Regions from separate parts of the Homo sapiens genome. Here region 1 is linked to region 2. A link means that fine-mapping ties the variant in region 2 to the expression of a gene that starts in the linked region. Tissue or cell type: whole blood. Region 2 holds a variant in brackets; the other region holds the start of a gene. All regions are shown on one strand. Distances are from middle to middle.

Region 1 (8,105 bases), 54 kb before region 2:
GATGACACATACCAGGTAGATACTACGTAACCACTCTTGGGGCTACCAAAACTTAAAAAAAAACCCTATGCCCCCAAAGGGTCTTGCTTCTCTTCCCACTCTCATCTTTTTTCCTCTGTTCACAAATTTCCTGAAAGAAAACTTTACAACTGCTCCTTCAATTTTCTTCTTCTTTTCATTCTGAGAGTTTTCTTAAAACCTCCCAAAGTTTTCATACAATGGCTGTTTCTTAGTCATGTTCAACTCTGCAAACTTTGAAGAAAGAGCTTTTTACTTTTTTCTAAGCCTTAGTTTCCTCATCTATAAAATGGGATCAATATTACCACTATTACACCATGTGAAGGATTGAATGAGGATAATGCATGCAGGGTGTTTAGCACAGTCAGTGGACTAAGGTAGGTGCTTGGTTTCTACTAATATCTAGTTCTCTGTCTTTTTTCTTTGAACTTTTTTTCTAAACCATGTGACACAGCTCATGACTTCCATGCCTCCTCCCCTCTCTTTCCTCCTTCATGCCTTTTGAGGCAGTATATGAAGATGATGGTAAGGCAGTTCCCCAAATTAAAAATTGGTAAGATTGCCTTCTCAGAATCTAATTAGTAAAATTCACACAAATCGAAAGATAGAAATAACCTAAGAAGTTGTCTAAATGATGAATTTGTCAGCATCCTCACATTCCAATTAAGGTGAGTTAGTGTAAACTTATTGGATGTAGAATTAAGTGTGACTAGACTTAGTAAGATATAAAATCAAATCTGTTCATCCTTCTTGTTTTGAAAAAAGGCTATAAAAGCTGAAGGTGGATGCCCACATACCTTCCTTAGCAAGGGAAGCCCATATAGCCAGATTCCTCAAAAACCTACTCAGGGATGAGGAACTCGACTGTGCTTGTGGCAGATTATCCCCATTGTGAGCCTCTGAACCATGGCAGTCAGTCCTACATATCAAGGGACTTCCCAGTCAGAGTTTGATCCTCTTTGTGACCAGCACATCTCTGTGGGCTGATCTACACGAAAGGCACGAAAATGCACACTGCCCTGTGTGATGGTTGTACTTGCTTGCTAAAAGAAATTCTATGTTTTTCTTTTGTGAGCTTGTTAGTATGAGCCAGCCAGGCTTTTGTATGAGCTTTTTTTTTTTTTTTTTTTTTTTTTTTTTTTTTTTGTGAGATGGAGTCTTGCTGTGTCACCCAGGCTAGAGCGCAATCTCTGCTCACTGCAACCTCTGCCTCCCGGGTTCAAGCGATTCTCCTGCCTCAGCCTCCTGAGTAGCTGGAGTTACAGGCATGCACCACCACACCCAGCTAATTTTTGTGTTTTTAGTAGAGATGGGGTTTCACCATGTTGGTCAGGCTGGTCTCGAACTTGACCTCGTGATCCACCCACCTTGGCCTCCCAAAGTGCTGGGATTATAGACATGAGCCACCGTGCCCGGCCTGTATGAGCTTATTAGTATGAACCAGCATTGCCTACCAGTTGAGGACCACACTCTAGATGCTGGTCAGTCATCAAGGTGAATGGACATCACCTGCCTCCCTTCCCCAAGTCCCTCTCATCTATAACAGCCCTACTTGCCTGCCTCACTCTCTTGGGGGTCTCCTGTTATTTCTCTTACAAAAACATGAATAAATAAGCTTTATGTTTTATTGAGTCAAAAGGGATTTATCCTCATTGTAAACATTTTTTTTTAATCTTCAGGGAATCTGAAAATCACCCATAAGCCCACCCCTGAGGGATATTGACTACTTTGTGGTATTCCCCCTGTTTTTCTTGTGTACTACTGTCTACATTTCAAATCAAACTCGGCTTAGGCTCTATATTGTGCTGCCTGCCTCTTCCCTTTCTCATGTAATGTATCTTGGATGTCTTTCTAGGTCACCTTTATTCTTGTGTTAGAGAATCCCATGATTCTTTTATCGGTTCCCCTATTGATGGATTTTGTCATATCTAGTTTTTTAATATTACAAGTAACTGGAATGGACATACAGATACATCTATATACGTTTCTTTCAAAAAAAGTTTGTTGAGCACTTACTACATATCAAATATTGTGCTAGGTGCTATGTATAAAATACCGAATAAAACTGATATAGTTGTGACCCCAATGAGCTATAGCTAGATCCATGATCTCCTTGTGATGATCTTTAAACTAGAATTGCCTAGTGAATGGATATGCTAATTTATTTTTGTGTGTATACAAATAAATATGTTTTTATCTAGTTTTTTCAGTTTTTAACAATTTTCTAAATTTAACTCACTTATGAACTATTTACAAAGGCATGGAAAATTAAGCATGCATTTTCCCATTTATATTTAATCATAATTCATTACATGTCTTCTGACTTTCTTGTTTAGTGGTTTTTCTTTGTCTCTTTGTTTCATTCCTTTGACCTCTACAACCACAGTTGTCTGCCCCATGAAAATATTTCTTCCTCTCTCTGTCCTTTGTTCAGTTTAAAAAATTTTTAGTATTTAAAAAAATTCGGCAGGCCGGGCGGAGTGGCTCATGCCTGTAATCCTGGCACTTTGGGAGGCCGAGGCGGGTGGATCGCCTGAGGTCAGGAGTCTGAGATCACCCTGGCCAACATGGTAAAACCCTGTCTCTACTAAAAATACAATAAACATTAGCTGGGCATGGTGGCACACGCCTGTAGTCCCAGCTACTTGGGAAGTTGAGGAAGGAGGATCGCTCGAACCCAGGAGGTAGAGGTTGCAGTGAGCCAAGACTATGCCACTGCACTCCAGCCTGGGCAATTGAGCAAGACGCTGTCTCAAAAAAAAAAAAAAAAAAAAAAAGGAAATAATAGTTATATATGTTTATGGGGTACATAGTAATATTTCAATCCATATAATGTATAGTGATCAGGTCTGGTAATTAGCATGCCTATCAGCTCAAACATTTGTCATTTCTTTGTGTTGGGAATGCTCAATATCCTCGTTGCTATTTGAAACTATGTTATTGACTATAGTCACCCTCCAGTGGTGCAGAACACTAGAACCTGTCATTTTGTATCCTTTAACAAATCTCTCCCTATTCCACCCTTTACCCTAGTATGCCAATTTAAACAGTTAATAGATTTTGGCAAACTGTCCTCCTAGGAGGTCCCTTTCCAGCGGTGAGTGAAAGTGTTTCCCACACCAGTGAAAAAGGTTTATTACATAATTGAGGCTGCCTGTGGGAGCAAAGAGGGCCTCCCAGCTGGTCAGAAAATGGCTAGAGAGAGCCAGGAAAGGAGACAAGCTTGGGGCTTTTATTGTGGTTAAGGGGTGAGGCTGGGAGGAGGGTATCCTGTGCACGCAGATGAAATCTGCCAGCACCAAAAAGAGCACCTAGGCTTTTTTTAACAGCTTGCCCAGATGTGGAGAAGAAAGAGGGAGTGCTGCGTAAAAGCTGCCAGCAGCCAAATGTCAGCAGCAAAAAATGGAGTCAGATTTCTTATATAAAAAGATGTTGGAAGTGGTATCAGAACAGTGCAGGGCCAAGTATCTCACTGGTCACTCTTCATGGGTTTGTATGGTACCTTTGCTCTCACTTACCTCTTGTGCAACAGCTGATTCCCCCTGACTTTCTCATGGTATCCCACTCCCAGGCATAGACATGCGCATGCACACATGCTTGTTTCTGTCCTTACGGATAGTGGAAACATGAACCAGGACCTGGACGAGTTTTTGGTCAGAGCTGTATCATGGCTCCTAGGAGAGTTTAATACTTTAGGTTTCAACCAAAGGAGACAGAGATCTGGCAGAAGGCCCTGAAGCCTAGAAGCAAGTACCCCCGCTCCTACCACCACCACCTAGGCAGGTGTGAGACAAGGATCCAGGCAGCTGCTGTTAGACTCTATAGCTGTTGGATGGTTTTGGCATTCCTAAACCTCTCTACTGCTTGCAAACGTGGAAGAACTGATTTTAAAAACCCACTCCATTTGCCTCTGGGCAGTTCTTACTCACAAAGGACGGGTCGTCTTGGCCGCACAGTTGTCTGTGGGTTGCATCATTTAACAGCTGAGAAAATGCTCCTCAAGAAGTTGTGACTTGCCCAAGGTGGCAGGGCAGGGCTAGGACTAGTACTCACCCTTTCTCACTGCTCATCCAGTGCCCTTAATTCCCCACGGGCTAATGGGACAGAACCCTGTTAAATGGTATCCAGTTTTTGTTTGGTTGGTTGGTTGGGTTTTTTTGAGACAGAGTCTTGCTCTATTGCTCAGGATGGAGTGCAGTGGCTCGATCTCGGCTCACTGCAACATCCACCTCCCAGATTCAAGCGATTCTCCTGCCTCAGCTTCCCGAGTAGCTGGGATTATGGGTGCCCACCACCATACCCAGCTAATTTTTGTATTTTTAGTAGAGACGGGGTTTCATCATGTTCACCAGGCTGGTCTCAAACTCCTGACCTCAAGTGATCTGTCCACCTCGGCCTCCCAAAGTGTTGGGAGGCTGAGGCATGAGCCAGCGCGCCAGGTTTTAATTCTCAATGAGAACACTATTTTTGTTGACAATGAGACGCCCAGAAGATAGCGCCTTTCTGGGGACAGTTGAGAATTTAATAGTGCTTCCGCATTTCTAACTTTTATCCCTCCCCCCTCCCACGGACTGTTTTCCTCTATTCCACTTTTCCTCTTTCATAAGTATTTGATTGCAGGTTGGTATCCTGTATCCAAGCACAGCGCTTGGCATCGAGTAGGCGCTCAATTTTATTTGGTGAATATGAGTTGGAGGAATATTTGATGAATGAATGGAAGATGAATTAATCATCAGGGTCAGCAAGTGATGAACCACAACTTGGTCCAGTTCTTTAGTCCTCTAGTCTCCTGGTGAGACTCCACAGCTCCGCTAACACGACCGGGCCTTCGTGGGCCTGACAACAGACCTGACATCCCACGGGCGGGAGAGGCGTCAGCCCGAGGCTGGGATGCTCGGCCGGAACGGCGGCTGGCGGCAGGCTGGGCCCAGGGAGCTGCGCGCGCAACCACTCGGGCTGTGGCTCCGGTGACCGCTCTCCCTGGCAACGGTTTGTTCCTAGCAACCAGCCTGAGGTCTGGAGGTGGTGCGGAGGGAGCCGCCTAGGGACCAGGGACTCCTGCCATGAATCCGCCGGGGTCCCTAGAGGCCCTGGACCCGAACGTGGACGAGCACTTGTCCACCCAGATTCTCGCGCCCTCGGTCCACTCCGACAACTCTCAGGAGCGCATCCAGGCCCGGCGCCTCCGCATCGCTGCGCGCTTAGAAGCCCGGAGGCGGTGAGCGCGGGGGCGGGCGGGGCGGGATCCGCGCCGCAGGAGCCGGAGAAGGGCTGGTTTCCTGATGAAATAGAAACATTTCTTCGGGAAGGTTCAGGCAGAGTATGGGAAAGTAAAACGCTGGGCCGGTGCCGTGGCGCGCGCCTGTCATCCCAGCACTTAGGGAGGCCGAGGCGGGCCGATCACTGGAGCCCAGGAGTTGGAGATGGTCAACCTGGGCAGCATAGAGAGACCCCATCTCTATAAAACATCAAACAATTAATCGGGCGTGGTGGCGTTCGACTGTGGTCTGCACATGGCATCTTTTCCACTACGGACACCTCCAAACCACAGGGTCTGCTGGATCATGTGGCCCAAGTAGCCTGGCTGCTTACACTGTGGCCTGGGTCCTTTCTTGTTCCAGGCACCACTCAAAGCTGGCAGCTTTTTGTGTCAGCCTGAATAATATTCCTAAGTGCGGGATGTATTGTCTCTAGGACCCAAAGTGGCCTAAGAGGCATTGAGTTTCCTTCTCTGTAGAGGATGCAAAATGCAGTAGATTTGTTTTTTACTTGATAGGCTATCCCAGCATCCCACTGACCACTGGACCCCTACAAACTTGAATGACATGGCAGTCCCTGGGCCTTCATAGGGTTGATTGCCCACCGTCTGGAGCACACATGTCTTACCAAGCCCTGCAGTGTGTTTCCATCACTCGCTCACCCTGGCTGATTGCTGCGGGGCCATCAGTGGAATGCAGGGGCCGGCAAACCCTTTCAGTAAAGGGCCAAATAGTAAATATTTTAGGCTTTTCGGATCATATGGCCTCTTTCCTAGCTGCTCAATTGCCATTGTATTGCAAAAGCAGCCACAGGCAAGACATAAACAAATGGGCATGACTGTGTTCCAATAAAGCTTTATTTATGGACACTGAAATTTGAATTTCATATACTGTTCATGTATCACAAAATAGCCTTCTTTTGATAAAAAATAATAATAAACTTTATTTTTTAGAGCAGTTTTTAGGACCACAGCAAAACTGATCAAAAAGTATAGCATTCGCATATACTCCCTGCCCCCACACATGCACAGCTACTGTCAACATCCTGCACTGGAGGGCACATTTGTAACAATATATGAACCTTGGCGCATCGTTATCACTTGAACTCCATTGTTTACCTTAGGGTTTCTTTTTGGTGTTGTACATCCTATGGGTTTGGATAAATTTATGGTGACACGAGCCCACCAGTATAGTATTATACCAAATATTTTTACTGCCCTAAAAATCCCCTGTGCTCTGCTTATTCATCCTAGTCTTTTTTTAACCATTTATTTATTAACCATTTAGAATTGTAAAAATCATTTAAAATTGTAAAAACCATTTAAAATTGTAAAAAATCGTAGCTCATGCCTGTAATCCCAGCACTTTGGGAGGCCAAGGCAGGAGGATCACCTGAGGTCAGGAGTTCAAGACCAGCCTGGCCAACATGGCGAAACCCTGTCTGTACTAAAAATACAAAAATTAGCCAGGTGTGGTGGCAGGCACCTGTAATCTCAGCTACTTGGGAGGCTGAGGCAGGAGAATTGCTCGAACCTGGGAGGCAGAGGTTGCAGTGAGCTGAGATAGCGCCACTGCACTCCAGCCTGGGTGACAAGCACAAAACTCCATCTCAAAAAAAAAAAAAAAAAAAATTGGGCCGGGCGCAGTGGCTCATGCCTGTAATCCCAAAACTTTGGGAGGCTGAGGCGGGCGGGATCACGAGGTCAGGAGTTTGAGACCAGCCTGACCGACATGGTGAAACCCTGTCTCTATTAAAAATACAAAAATTAGCCAGGCATGGTGGCGCGCGCCTGTAATCCCAGCTACTCAGGAGACTGAGGCAGGAGAATCGCTTGAACCCAGGAGGCGGAGGTTGCAGTGAGCTGAGATCGTGCCATTGCACTCCAGCCTGGGCGACAGAGCGAGACTCTGTCTCAAAAAAAAAAAATTGTAAAAATCATTATTTGCCTGGAAGCCATACAAAAACAGGTGGTGGACTGGATCTGTCCCACAGGCCATAGTTTGCCAGTGCTGAAGTAATGGATCATTGTGATGTTCTCTGGGATATCCAGATGTCCCTGATATATTCAGAATATATTATGACAGAGATCAGGAGAACTACCATGGTCCTGTGAGTGTGACCGACTTGTGAGTGTATATCATTGTCTGTTCCATGTAAATGTGAACTTCCTGATTATTTTTCCTGATTGAGGTAGAAAAGCATGCATTTGGCCCAATCAGTAGCCACACATACTGTGCCTGAGGCTGTACAAATTTGCTCTAGTGAAGCTTACCACACTTGCATAGATGCTGTGTTCAGGAGTGCTACCTGTGGAGCTTCTGGTAGTTGACAGTCACTTTCTAGGATCCAGTTTCTGCAGGTGCCAGACCCATGAATTAAAAGGAGATTCAATAGGGATCACCATTCCTGCATCGTTGAGATACTTCAGGGTGGCACTAATCCCCACCAACACCCCTGGGTGGCAATATTTTTTTTTGTGTACTGAGGTGCAGTTTCAGAGATGTCCTTTTGGCCTTCCCCACTATGGTAGCTCTATTTATAGGCCAAGGAGTGGAGTTTTTCAAACTTCTAAGTATGTAGGTCCCAATTATACTTTTGGCCATTAGAGACATGATTGCTGGCTGAGTCCACAGACTTGGCAGACCCTCTGTAAGTAGGACTTTGCCTCCCCTGTGTCCTCACTCTAAGTGGGTGGGAGCATGCTTTGGGTCTCTGGGTGTCAATGGTAACTCAGACCCTGTTCTAATCCTAAACATTTCTGGGTATCCTCTTTCCTTATTGTGCAGCCCTCCTGAGTAGATGACCCTAGGCCCCTTTGGGGAAGAACT
Region 2 (8,105 bases):
AACTTAGCATTTCCCTTATTGTTTATCAATTTGTCTCTTTGTAAAGGGAAGAATGGCTTGGGGGTGAGATGCTGTTCTTATACTGAGGCCCAAGCAATCTTTTCCTGCACCCTCCCTCAAAACCAGGTCTCAGCCACTGTGAGACCAGAGCCCACCAGGTTCTGAATATTTTGATCCTTAACACTTTCCCGCAAGGCAAGGCCCATTTGTCCTACATATCTTGATTGTAATTGATTTCAGAAGGTGAATCAAATATTAACTATTTTAAAGAAGATGCCATATTAAAAGTCATATAACATTTTAATTTAAAAATGAAAAATGTGAATGAAAAATGTTTTTAGTACTGCTAGCCCAAAGCTGAGTATCCTGACATGCCTGTAAAAAGAGTTGGCTGGGCTAGGCACAGTGGCTCATGCCTATAGTTCCAGCTACTTGGGAGGCTCAGTTTAGCCCAGAAGGTTGAGGCTGCAGTGAGCCATGATGAGGTTGAGGCTGCAGTGAGCCATGATTTCACCACTGCATTTCAGCCTGGGTGACAGAGTGTGAGACACTGTCTCTAAGGGAAAAAAAAGAGAAAAGAAAAAAAGAGCTGGCAGAAATGGACAAAACCACAAAGCCATAAAGGGAATAAAAGCTATATTTGACTACAGAATTTAAAAACAATTCTGTAGTGCAAAAATCATGATAAGCAAAGTTAAGAGATGAATGACAAGCTGCAGAGAAATATTTTCAACTCATATCATAGTTAAGGCATTTCCTTAATATATAAAGAGCTCTCTGAAATCAATAAGAAAAAGACCAACAAAAGGAACAGATAACAAATATGAATGAACAACTCCTAGAAGAGGCAATACAGGTAACTCTTAAACATATGAAAAGACAATCAGCCTTCCTTGTAATAAGAGAAATGCAAATTAAAATGGCTGATTTCCATTTTGCCAACCTGTTATGTTGGCGCAAAAAAAAAAAAAGCTTGATAACACAGCAAGTATAACATAGCGATGACTGAGGTGTAGAAAACAGGCACACTCATAAGTTACTGGTAGGAGTATAAATTGTAACCTCCATTGAGGACAGTTTGGCAGTATCAATTACAAAACTATATACATTTTACTCTGAAATTCTTCTTCTTTTTTTTGAGACAGAGTCTCACTCTGTTGCCCAGGCTGGAGTGCAGTGGCACGATCTCGGCTCACTACAACCTCCATCTCCCAGGTTCAAGCCATTCTCCTGCCTCAGCCTCCTGAGTAGCTGGGATTGATTACAGGCACCTGCCACCACGCCCGGCTAATTTTTGTATTTTTAGTAGAGATGTGGTTTCACCATGTTGGCCAGGCTGCTCTCGAACTCCTGACCTCAAATGATCTGCCCACCTTGGCCTCTGAAATTCTTCTTCTAGGATTTTATTCTCTAAATATATCTCATTACAGTTGAAATGGTGTATTTATTGTAGCTGATTCACTGTACATTGTTTGAAATGGCAGAAGATTCGAAACAACCTATATGTCCATTGTTGAGGAATCTATTTAATAATATATGGTATGTCTACACGATGGGGTACTATAAAACTGTGGGAAAAAACCAAAGTTCTTTATGTATTCACATGAAAAGGTACCTAAGGTTTATTGGTAAGTGTAAAAGCAAACTACAGAACTCTATTTGTAGTATAGTATCATTGATGTCAAAACGAGAAGGAGGAGTATATATGGAAAGGTATGCGCATGTATTTATATATAAACATTATATAGACATACTATTTCCTTGGAAGGAACCATAGGAAACTTGATAGCATTCGTTTGCCTGTGGGAGGTCAATTGCATGAACTGCAAAATAGGAGTAGGAGGAAGACCTTTTAAATTTAACAATTAAAGCAAAAATTTAATCTGTATTATGATTCAAAAGAAGATTTCTAACATGTAAGCTTTATGAATGTCAGTAAGGTGAGCACCTAGGAGCCCGGATTTAGAAACAGAACCTTTCCATTTTCTCGTAGCCTCCTAGTGCCTCTCCCCATCCCATCCCCCTTCTTCCCACTCTTTCTCCTGTTTCTGTCCCTGTGTAAATGTCTCCCTGGGCAAGCTGTCACTTTCTGTAAACTTTTCTGGTTTTTCTTCTTCCTGCCTCTCTCTCCATGCTCATGCTCGTGTGTCCCCAGCCCACAGTTGTCCGTGCATCTTTCTCCAGATCAAGCCCTGCAGTCAGGCGAGCATGGAGAAGGCGAGCATGGAGGAGACAAGCACGAGGTCAGAATTGGAGCTGGCAGAGCAGACGGAGATGGAGGGAGAAAAGGAAGAAAGCCTGGTGGAAGGGGAGAAGGAGGAAGAGGAGGAGACCCCACCCTCCCCCTGGGTCATCCACCCCAATGATGTCCTCAAGATTCTGGAGGCCTTCGTCATGGGTCTGAAGAAGCCTAGGTGGGCTGCGGGGCTGGAAGGCTTGCCTGAGACCAGAACCAGGGGAGCTGGATGGGCTGGGGAGCCAGGCAGAGCCAGTGAGTGGAGAAGAGTCTGCTGGGCAAGATGCGGGGACTAAGGACAGGGCTATCTGAAGGCGGGCTGGGGCAACCAATCGCTGGACAGTCAGGAAAGCAATAGGGCATAGTGGTGATCTGTGCTTTTTTCACTCATCATTCATTCAGCAGACATGCACTGAAGGCTGCCATGTGTAAGCACTGTGGGGGCACTGCCTTGTGATCAGAGTAATGGTCAAAGCACATTCAAGGTGCACCATTGTTCAGAGGAGGAAGTGGCCGTTTCCATTTGGCATGTCAGAGGGTTTTGGGAGGAAATGGCACTGGAACTAGGTGTTCCCAGGCAGATAAAATGGAGGTAAGGGCATTTCAGGAAATGACAGCATGGGGAAGGTCTGGTCTGTTCAAGAATCATCACAGGAGGTCTGGCTGGAGTGTCAAGGGCCTGGGAGGTGGCACTGGTGGGTGGGGAGCTAGCCAGGTCTTGGAGAGCCTTGCCCAATGTGCCCAAGATCTTTGTCTTTACCCGTTGGTGGGTGGGAGCCAGAAAAGGATTTGAAGCAGCCGAAGAGCCATGATTAGCCTTGCGTTTTAGAGAGATCATTGTGGCGTCAGGGAAGGGGCGAAGCTGGATACAGGGAAAGCATCAGGAGGCTTGTCCAGGTGGGAGGTGAGGATCCCCCAGATTAAGGCTGTCATGAGGGGATGGAGAGGACATGACTGAATTCAAGTGCTGTTTTGGATGTGTTGGTGCAAGAGATGGGCACAGTGATGAGCTGTAAAGCCAGTGAGGTAAACTGATTGGGAGAGAGAGGGGTGGATGAAGCACGGATTATGCCCTCACGAAGGTACCGGTGGTACCGAGGCAGGAACGTTGACAATAAGCATGCGTCCTTTCTGAGAACCTGCCACCGTCTAATAAACTTGGACTGCTGAGTGGGAAGGTGACAGGTGGGAAAGCAGTAGGCCTGTGACTGGCACTGCCTGGGGGCCTGGGTAGTACCCAATGGACATGACAATCACTGTGCTCTTGGCCTTCAGGGACTCGCGGGCCCCGCTGAGGGTACAGAAGAATGTGCGTGACAACTCCAAGGACTCGGAGTACTGGCAGGCCCTGACCACAGTGATCCCTTCCTCCAAGCAGAACCTCTGGGATGCCCTCTACACAGCCTTGGAGAAGTACCAGTAAGTGTGCATGTCATGGAGCAGGAGGGTGCTGGCGGGCAGGTGAGGAACGGTTGTTGGGAGCAGCCGCGTTTGCTGCCTCCCTGTCCCACTGAACCTGGGAGGGAAGAGCTGCCCTTGGCATCTCCTGTGTGGGTGGATCATGTGGGGCAGTTGGCTCTTGGGCCCTGGCCTGCCTGTTCTGTTCCTGCTAACCTGGCTCACCTGGCGGCTGGGTGAAGAGTGTAGCTTCTGGAGTCTCCCTCCACCTGTAGCCAAAGTACAACCACCAAGACCCTGGCCCCTACTTGGCAGAGGATGGAGGATTCAGTGAGCCTCTAACCGATTTTTCTGTCCAAAGCCTTGTCCTGACCCAGAGGGCCAAGCTGCTGCTGGAAAACAGTTCTCTGGAGCAGCAGAACACAGAGCTGCAGGCGCTACTGCAGCAGTATCTGAACTCCAAGGTGGGCGGCGGGGCCTTCCAAGGAGGGGCAGCGGGAGACACGGGTGGGGCAGGGGCACTGGAGCTGGGATTAGGGAACGAGGAGTCCCCTCCCCGTCAGAGGCAAGGGAGCTTTGTGATATGATGTAAAAAATCAAGAGTGGCACCTTGAGACAACTACTGGCCAAAGGAGTAGATCTTGCCTGAAGTCTCCTCCAGGACAGCTCAGGTGTGACAGTGTCTCTTTGATACTGTGGTTTCTGGTGCCAGTGGCCAGCTGGGACTGCTCTGTGTGAAGCAGTGCCACAGCCAGGAGCAGCTCCCCAGCTACAGAGCCTCCAGCTGTGCTCTCTTCTTCCATCCTCACACCCGCTGTGTGAGGTGGACAGGGCGGAAACAATGCTCCTCATTTCACACAAAGGACAATCACAACTTGCAGAGTTTGCAACTCGTCCAGAGCCTGGGCTCTTTCCACCCACCAGCCCCGGTTCCCTGCCTGGGATATGACTGGAGGGTCATCCTCGCATGGGGAAGGAGGCTCTGCTGGGGCAGATATTCCCTGGCCCCCATCTGTGCCCAACCCTGCAATAGTTGTGGACAACTTCCCCATGGCCTGGCAAGAGGAGGAAGGAAAAAGTCCATTGCTGACATTTCCTGCTCTGCGGGTGTGGGCACCTGCAGCTGGGGCTGTAGGCCAGGAAGGTCGTGAC[G/A]CAGCTGTTAGTTGCACACGTGTGAGGTGACTGAGGCCAGCTCCAAGTCCAGCCACAGGGGCTGCGTGGCCCCAGCACAGTCCCAGGTCCCAGGCCACAGCTGAAAGTGGGATGTTGTAGTGAACCTTGGCCTCATAATGACCCTTGGCCTGTGACAGGACCCAGACATTCTGGACGGTATGGTTCCCGCTTCCACAGATGCTACTGTATACAAGAGGCTGGGGGAGGAAGAGGTGGGGCAGGCTAGATTGGGGATGGCATGGGTGCGTGGAGAGAGGAGAGGGGAAGACTGCAGAGAATGGACGGGCGGGAGATGAAGAACGCTACCAGAGGTCACAGCTGGAGCAGAAGCTGAGCAAGAAGGCTCAGGCGTGTCTCCTGCAGGGAGGCAGTCTGTGGGTGTTCAGCATCTCTCAGCTTTGGAGAGGAGATGCGTGCAGGGCTTTGGAGGCCCATGGGAGAGCCAGCGTGGCTCGCAAGGGTGGCAAAGAAGGAGGGCCCTGGGAAAAATGTAACGACTTTCACCCTTTCTTTTCCAGATCAACTCTGAACTGCAAGTTCCTCCCACTCAGGTGTTGCGGGTACCCACAAAATGAGCTGGACCGCCAAAGGCTGATGTGTTAGGGCTGGCCTGATGCTGGTGTCTGTGCCGGAGCCAGCTCATATCACCCACTGGGCCGCACCTGGGCCTGCTCTCTGGATTTTCCAGGGCTGTCTTTATAGCCTGTCGAAATAAGGAGCCAGAGGAGTTACCTGTGTCCTGCATTATGATTAAAGCCTTTTAAAGTTGTGGCTGAATCTCTTTAAAGAGGTCAGGTCTAGCAAGACCAGGCCCTTGCCCCTACCTCTGTGTCATGAGGGGACTTTGCCCCAGGCTCAGATAGTGGTGTGAGTCAGAGGCCGAGGCCAGTAGCGTGGGGCTCCTTTCTTGCTTTCAGGGGAACTGGTTTCTGTGGGTGGAGGCTAGAGCTTTTGGGCCCTTGTGGGGCCTTAAGCCTTCAGACTGGCCCCAGACCTGAAGGATTCTTTCGGTGCTTTGGGGGCCCCTGGGCCCAGGCTGGTGTGCCCTTTGGGCTATGGTGTAAGACTCCTCCTGTGGGCAGCCTGGGTGGGCAGCCCTGTGCCTGAGGCCTGCCTTGAACCCTGGGCCACCAGAGGCCACTTGAAGGGGAAAGGCCATGGGAGCCCTGCTGGTACTGAATCTGCCAGCCTAGAGAACTGCTGCCTCTGCCCCGCACCTGCGGCTGCTCCTCTCAGCTTGACCAGTGCAGACCTGTCAGCTCAGTGCTTGACTTCTTTTATTTAGAGAAAAATCACCACTCAAGAAAAGAAAAACAGCCAACAGAAACCCAGACACAGGCAGGGGCAGCACTTGACGGGCCAGCTCCCAGCTGCAGCTGAAAGGGCTGGAAGGGCAAGGGGGCAGGGGTGGGAGGACAGGGTGTGCCCGGGATGGGGAGTCCCCTCTGCTGCTTCTCACAGCTCCTCAGCTGGGCCTGGAGGCGCTGGCTGGGGCAGAGGGAGCTCTGGGAAGCCATGGAAACCCACAGGCAGGACAGGCGACCCCCTGGGAAGTGAGAGGAGCCAAGTGGAGCCCAGCAGTGGCAGAAGCAGCCGCGCTGGGACTTGTGGGCAGGGTCTGGCCCCTGCTGCGGATCAAAGACCGGTGCTATCTGCAGGGGTCACGGCGGGGATACCTTTTGCTCGTTCATTCTTTTTAAAGCCCTGGGCACTGACCCATGGTCCTTGGTTAATTTCACTAAAGCTTCAATCCTGTACTTGGAAGACCTGGGGAGGGTTTCAGGAGTCTTCCTCTGGAGCCTGGGCCTGAAGAAGGGTGGCGCCTCAGCCAGGTGGGGCAAGAGAGACCCATTCCAGGTCCCCACCCCATCCAAGGCTCCCCAGCCCACAGGCAGGGGTCAGAGGGGCGGGACTGGGCAAGCCGCAGCCTGGGGCAGTGAGGACAGGCGGCCCCCGCAAGCAGGAGGCAGGCTCGGCCCAAGGCATGAAGAGTGGACGCTGGGCTCCTCAGGCTCCCCAGGGGAGATGGGAAAGAGTCCAAGCCACTGAAAGGAAATGCGGCAGGGCTGGGGAGCGGCTGGCGGGAGCTGGCGGCCTTCATGCCCCAAGGAGCTTTTTGACCATGTAGCCAGGGAGGCTGTAGAGGAAGAGCCCCAACATGAGCAGCCCCAACAGCGCCAGCACGATCTTGATGATGAGCCACTTGTACCGGGTGCAGATGAGGTACTTGATGGACTTGAGAGGGTTGAGGAACCAGACGAAGGCCGTGTCGGGCCGGCTGGGAAGTGGAAGAGAGGAGCCGGTCAGCCAGTGGGCAGGAGCTGCCTCCCAGTGCACCCCATCCTCTGTCCTTCTGGACCCCCAAAAGCCCTGCCATGGCCCCAGCCCCAAAAGCAGTGAATGCTGGAGCCAGGGTTTAAACCCATTTCTAAGTACCCGACTTGCTGCTTACAAAACTCTATCCTCCCTGCAGCACCTTTGGGGCCCGAATCTCCTCCTAAGGCCTAGATGGGAGCTACTTGCAGCATGGGGCAGCCTTGGCCCTGCAGGCAGTTCTCATCGTTAGGAAGCTCCTGCGGTTAGCTCGTTCTATGTGCTGCCCCACGTCCTTGGTAAGACTGGTGCTTCACAACCTCTTCCTTTCTGATGGACATAAATGGCTGTTCCCACCGGGCCCTGCTGAGGGTCTGAGCAGCCCCTGTGGGGTGCAAGCTGCCCTCACCGACCTGCCCACTCTCAGGATGAAGACCCACTCCACCTTCTGTAGAGCCTCCCAGCCGAGAAGCACCTGGCCAGCCTCACTATCTGTCGTTTGTGTTATAAAAACAATAGGTTTTGTAAAATGTCAAGATACAAGTGAAAGTACTGCATATGCATTTTCAAACTACTGCCTCCCAGAGGACATGGCGTGCAGCCCCAGAGCTGAGCTCAGTATTGGTGGGGACACAGAGCCGGGGCTTGGGTGCAGGGCACCTGGTTTTGAATGGTTTTCACAGGCAAGTGAGGCACCTCTATCAACCTCGGTTTCTTCATGTATAAAATGGGGTTACAAGCAGTACCTACCTCCTGGGTTTGGCGCAATGGCACAGTGAGCCAGTGCCTGGGGAGCTCTGAGCACCTGCAGTTGGGTGTTCAGGCCATGGTGGCTATGAAATGTTTGAGTTGAATGGAATTATTATCCTGAAGGGCAGAAAACAACAGCCCTGGACTGGGAGGTCACACACGGGTGAGAGCCATTTCCAGACCTGTTGGCTAACCCTGGCCACACCCTTCCCTTTTCCCTGTCCATAGCTCAGCT

Evidence for each region. PIP is the estimated chance that this variant, and not a neighbour inherited with it, causes the effect.
Region 1: DRC1 starts here. The variant in region 2 is fine-mapped to the expression of DRC1 in whole blood (TOPMed, PIP above 0.99). The same link has a PIP of 0.9 or more in neutrophils.

What each region holds. Positions count from the first base shown.
Region 1 is chr2:26,396,909-26,405,013 of GRCh38, forward strand. It overlaps DRC1 (dynein regulatory complex subunit 1), which reads left to right and starts at 5,012. Exons shown (of 17, transcript NM_145038.5): 1 at 5,012-5,236. The coding sequence starts at 5,082.
Region 2 is chr2:26,451,136-26,459,240 of GRCh38, forward strand. It overlaps DRC1 (dynein regulatory complex subunit 1), which reads left to right. Exons shown (of 17, transcript NM_145038.5): 14 at 2,185-2,414; 15 at 3,512-3,655; 16 at 3,996-4,098; 17 at 5,326-5,576. The coding sequence ends at 5,382. OTOF (otoferlin) reads right to left here. Exons shown (of 47, transcript NM_194248.3): 47 at 6,068-7,085. Among named protein-coding and RNA genes, the nearest start is that of DRC1, 53 kb to the left of the region's middle. RefSeq lists enhancers at 6,497-7,067, 7,068-7,637. The variant G/A (reference allele first, on the strand shown) is at 4,787.